Linked DNA regions of Homo sapiens: region 1 is linked to region 2. A link means that fine-mapping ties the variant in region 2 to the expression of a gene that starts in the linked region. Tissue or cell type: skeletal muscle. Region 2 holds a variant in brackets; the other region holds the start of a gene. All regions are shown on one strand. Distances are between the middles of the regions.

Region 1 (2,666 bases), 34 kb after region 2:
TACAAAAATTAGCCAGGCGTGGTGGTGGGCGCCTGTAGTCTCAGCTACTCTGGAGGCTGAGGCAGGCGAATGGCGTGAACCCGGGAGGCGGAGGGTGCAGTAAGCCAGTGCATCCCAGCCTGGCAACAGGGCGAGACCCCATCTCAAAAAAAAAAAAAAAAAAAAAGGCAATCCCATAGTCTAAGGTCAGATAATAAGTAAAACACTTGACCTGAATCAACTCAGCAATCCATCATTTAGGAATTCTGCAAAGATCCTGTAGGTTTTTCATCAATGGGAAATTTCTTTACAATCTTTTGCAGTCAGCCTTCCCTGGGACACACTGGTAGGCAAACCAACCTGGAGAATTAGCTAGATTCGAGAGGTGAGGATTTCCTTTGCTACCCTAAATTCCATGAAGTTTAAATCTCCAGTTAAAATATTTTCTCTGCTACTTTGTGAATAACCACGTATCAAGCCCTTGTTTCTGTTATAAATTTATAATTCTATTTAGTCATAACTGTACAATAAAACAATTATTGTTACTAATTTTGCCAAAGTACAGGCTTCCAACTTAAAGTAGGAAATACAAAACAGGTCTCTCCAAGGTAAAGCCTGGAGACTGATCTCACTAAGAGATCTTATTTCAGTAAGCAGCAGAATGTTCATTTATTAGTGTTAAGAATTATCCTAACCACTTCTCCTAGGGACAGATGGATAAACAGTTCCACATAGCAACCTTGGGAACAATTCCAATTAGGGAATAAGAAGAAAAACAAAACTATGGTTTTGGGCATATGAATATATACTCATTCGCCAAACACTTTTCAAAATGATAGGTTCGATCCTACTTCTAGGCCTTAGGGAATGATTAGTAGTCCAAAATCCATTCTTTCTATTAGATCACTTTCCAAACTGTTTTCCTGCCTGTCCCCCAACCAGGCTCCTGGTCAGGAGCTGTTTTATTTCCTTGTACTTCCATCGTTTAATATTGTGTCCGACACGTAGCTGGTGCTCAAATGGCTGAATGACTACCAAAATGCCCACCCACGAGGCGGGCCCCCAAACCTGGCACTGTAGGTCAAAAATTAAACAGATCGTGAAACGGCATGACAGCAGCCTGGCCCTGCTCTCTGCCTCCAGAAGCTGAGGGCAGGTTGGGAAAAGTGCACTATGCACCCCAGAACCTCCCGAAGTACTGGCAGAACAGAGTGGGCTGTCCGACCCGCACGGGCTGCCTCTGTCCTCCAGGCATAGAACACGATTCTTCTCGTTCTTTAGGGCAGAGGGGACTCGGCTACTGCCCTCTCCTCCAAGCCCAACCTTGAAACGACCCTTCCCCAAGCTGGCCGCGCAAACGCTCCACGACGAAGCCCAAGCCTGGGCGCCCGGAGCTTCCCAGAGGAAAGGCACCGCGGTGCGCTGTGGGAGTCGTAGTTCCCCGGTGAGTTCCGCACCCGGGCGGCCCTACGAACGGGACTCGCGCTCCCAGAACACATCGCGCGGGCGCCTCGCCCAGTCCTGCCACCTCACCTGTTCTATGGACGTGACTGTTTCCACCGAGTCGTCCTGCAACCGCTCTCGCGCGTGCTCGGGCCTCAGACTGTACAGCGGCTCTGACCAGACGGGGGAGGAAGATGGAGGGCAATAGTAGGTGAAAGAACTCGGAGAAGCCATGATCAGGAGAGCAGCAGACAGTGTGTAGGACTCTGCTTCGTTAAGCAACAACGCGCATTGAAACTCGAGCGGGCTAAAGCGCTACGGCGAGCGGATAGAGGCAAAAAGATTTTGAACGCGAATGTCTCCTCCCGCCTACCCGTCTTTCGAGTGAGTTACTGAGATGCTGCCGCCCCCCATTGGGCAGAGGAGCTGCTGCAAGAGCGTAGAGTCCTGAAGCGCAAGGGTGTCTACATCCGAATTTCATTTCAGCGAGATGGCGTAGGACGCCTCGGTTTGTTACGCAAATTGTTAAAGAACTGTAACATTCTGCTAATTCTCACTTAATTGTAATGCAATTGTTTGCAATTTCAGGTGCCCAAGAACCCAATGAATGTTAAGTTTGAAAGCATTTCTGACAGCTCTACTGATTTGCCTCAGTCAGGCAATTACTAAAAGAATTATTGTGCACCTTGGGGTACTTGACAGCCTCCCAGGAGAAGGCAGCAGCTGCTCAAACGTGCAAGGACGCCGTCTCAGTATCACTCAGTGATGGAGGGAGGGGGGTATTATGATTTTCTCCTGTCTCTTGGAGGTTACACTGCAGTAGCGAGAACTGAAATGCAGTACAAGGAACAAGGATAAGTGAAATAGACAGTCAGTCCGCAGATATTTATGGAACACCTGCTATGTGTCAGGCATTGTGCTAGGTTCTAGGAATACAAAAGTGAACAAAACGAAGTCCCTTCCCTTGGAAACCTTACATTCTAAGAAAATCGACAGAATTGAATGTATCCAACGCAATAAATATATGAAGACTTGTGATAAATGAGATGAAGGAAAATAACAGGGTCTATGAGAGAGACTAAAGGGGTAAGAAACTAATTGAATTGTATGGTCAGGCCAAGCCTCTCTAAATGACCTTTCATTTGAGATCCGAAGGATGACGAGGAGTCATCCAGAAGAACAGTATGGGAAAGAACTCCTGAAAAAGGAAGAAACAGCAGCTTTTAGAAGACATGTGCTGGGCA
Region 2 (2,848 bases):
TCTCTATTTTTAAAATAATATAAAAAGCTTAATATTACAGACAATCACAGTGAGAAAGCTACCCAGCAAAATACCTCAAATATACAAAGGATAATTACATAAACATTCTAGTAGGTAAAAACTGAGACTAATTTGTAGCAAGAAGTATTTAGGTTACATAAAAAACTTCAGCACTAGACTAGGCTATCATAGACAGACTTAAGGCCTAGGATAAGTTATAAAAATTATAGCTATGTTCTGCACAATTGGGCAGGTTTAAAAAAAAAAAAACAGAAAAAAAGATTACAGCTTTGGAAATAGGAACAGTCATCCATGGGCAGAACGGCTTAGGAGGGGATGTAAATGCAAGATGCATGAGCTGGCATCACATCAAGCTTGTTCTCGTACTAACTAAAACAGCTTCAGCTTGATATAGTGAAGAGGAAATCTCCTTCCCTAGGTAGAATATGACAATGGACAGGTGAAGACGGGCAGCATCTCTTGTTGATTCCGGGTGGCCTCTGCTGCTCACAGAGTCAGACGTGTTATTTGACTCTTCATCAAGCACCGGCAAGTCTCTGGATGGCTGCTGTTCTGGAAGAATGGTCAGGTCGAAAGTTGGCTACTATAGGCCGGGCGCAGTGGCTCACGCCTATAATCCTAGCACTTTGGGAGGCCGACGTGGGCGGATCACTTAAGGCCAGGAGTTTGAGACCAGCCTGGCCAACATGGTGAAACCCCATCTCTACTAAAAATACAAAAATTAGCCAGGCATAGTGGCATGCGCCCGTAGTCCCAGCTGCTTGGGAGGCTGAAGCACGAGAATCGCTTGAACCCGGAAGGTGGAAGTTGCAGTGAGCTGAGATTGCACCAGTGCCCTCCAGCCTGGGGGACACAGCAAGACTGCCTCAAAGGAAAAAAAAGTTGGCTACTTTAGAGCAGAGTTTCTCAACTGTTGACACTGGGGCTCAGTAATTCTTTGGTGCAGGGACCGTCCTGTAGAGGATATTTAGCAGCACCTCTGACCTGCACCCACCAGGTGCCAACAGCACCTGGCCAGGAAAAATGCCCAGGAGACAAAGGCCTAGATATGGTGTCCTCACTGAAAGGTAAGGAAACATACAAACTAGACTTAAAAATTAAAAGGAAAAATATTTAAGGGGCTATTCCGGGGATAAGCTACTAACAACCTTTTGAAAGGGAAAGGATAAAACACTGAAATAGCAAAATTTGAATTTATCTTTGGAAAAATCTTACAAGCTGAAATGTCCTAAAATGGTTTTTAAGTTAAAGGCAATTTTTAAATCTTACAGAAGCTAAAAACATAACTTTAACAGTGCGATGGTCTCCCTGTGAATTTTATTTTGCTCTGTTTCACTGAAGCTGCTTTCAGTAACAAAGAATGGGATTCTCATTAGAGGATGCTTCCTTCAGTGCCAAAACCATTAAGCAAAGCAAATGTACTTAGTCTAGTTCCAAAATATTAATTCATTTTAGATAAACACATATAAATGTGTGCATATAACCTCTTAAAAGAGGGAAGCTAGGCCGGGTGCGGTGGCTCACATCTGTAATCCCAACACTTTGGGAAGCCAAGAC[A/G]GGTGTATCACCTGAGGTCAGGAGTTCAAGACCAGCCTGGCCAACATGTTGAAAGCCTGTCTTTACAAAATACAAAAATTAGCTGGGCGTGGTGGCACACCCCTGTAATCCTAGCTACTTGGGAAGCTGAGGCAGGAGAATCACTTGAACCCGGGAGGTGGAGGTTGCAGTGAGCTGAGATCATGCCACTGCACTACAGCCTGGCAACAAGAGCAAAACTCCGTCTCAAAAAAAAAAAAAAAAGGCCGGGCGCGGTGGCTCATGCCTGTAATCCCAGCACTTTGGGAGGCTGAGGCAGGTGGATCACCTGAGGTCAGGAGTTCGAGACCAACTTGGCCAACATGGTAAAACCCAATCTCTACTAAAAATACAAAAATTAGCCGGGTGTGGTGGCTCCCGCCTGTATGCCTGTAGTCCCAGCTACTCGGGAGGCCGAGGCAGGAGAATTGCTTGAACCCAGGAGGTGGAGGTTGCAGTGAGCCAAGATCGTGCCACTGCACTCCAGTCTGGGCAACAGAGCGAGACTCTCAAAAAAAAAAGAGGCAAGCTGAAGTCCTACCTATGGACTGGGCATGGTGGCTCACGCCTATAATCCCAGTGTTTTGGGAGGCTAAGGCAGGAGGATCAATTGAGCCCAGGAGATTGAGACCAGCCCAGGCAACACAGCAAGGCACTGTCTCTACCAAAAATAAAGAAAACATTCCAGGCTATGAATACATTATTCTTGAAACCTCTGATACCAGCAGTAACAACCTCGCCTTGCTGGCTTTGGTCAGCGGTCATAGCAGCTGACAAAAGTATTTTGTCCACTAGAGGGAACCCAGCTTATCATATTGTTCCCTAAACAAATAGAAGCACAGCAGTGAACAAAATAGGAAAGAGAAACCTTTGTGTAAGTGTAGGGGGCGTGTGTGTTACATGCAGGGGAAAAGAAGGCAGGAAAATAATAAAACTGCAGAGCTAGACTTTTTGACTCTAGGTCACCTTAATATATTTGTATGAAGAAAGAAAACTGAACGCATTTCAAAGCATTTCATTTCCCTGTGCAAGATAAATAAAAAGGCAATATTCTATTTCAGCTAGTCTAAAAAAAATCTTCTATTTATATAGAAGTCCTTAAGATTTATCTGTATCTTACTAAAAATAATCTATTTCCTTATGGGTCAGAGCCAGTAGGCTTTGTTCATAACAAGTGTTTTCTGCACCTAGAAGTAACCACCTCCTAGGCACAAAGCAAAATACATTATTGGGAAGTCTAAGAAATGTTTAA

Alleles and levels. Positions count from the first base shown, and alleles are read on the strand shown. Sizes are in standard deviations (SD) of each study's normalised expression.
As copies of A replace G in region 2, the expression in skeletal muscle of the gene that starts at base 1,715 in region 1 goes up (small effect, 0.23 SD a copy in GTEx).

The links. PIP is the estimated chance that this variant, and not a neighbour inherited with it, causes the effect.
Region 1: it holds the start of FNTB, and the variant in region 2 is fine-mapped to the expression of FNTB in skeletal muscle (GTEx, PIP 0.97).

What each region holds. Positions count from the first base shown.
Region 1 is chr14:64,985,944-64,988,609 of GRCh38, reverse strand. It overlaps FNTB (farnesyltransferase, CAAX box, subunit beta), which reads right to left and starts at 1,715. Exons shown (of 12, transcript NM_002028.4): 1 at 1,513-1,715. The coding sequence starts at 1,656. The region is part of intron 3 of CHURC1-FNTB (CHURC1-FNTB readthrough); the gene reads right to left. LOC107984655 (a long non-coding RNA gene) reads left to right here and starts at 1,497. Exons shown (of 2, transcript XR_001750792.2): 1 at 1,497-1,930; 2 at 2,011-2,666.
Region 2 is chr14:65,019,707-65,022,554 of GRCh38, reverse strand. All of the region lies in intron 6 of CHURC1-FNTB (CHURC1-FNTB readthrough), which reads right to left. The region is part of intron 4 of FNTB (farnesyltransferase, CAAX box, subunit beta); the gene reads right to left. It also overlaps a transcript of MAX not described here. Among named protein-coding and RNA genes, the nearest start is that of MIR4706, 24 kb to the left of the region's middle. RefSeq lists a silencer at 2,485-2,534. The variant A/G (reference allele first, on the strand shown) is at 1,579.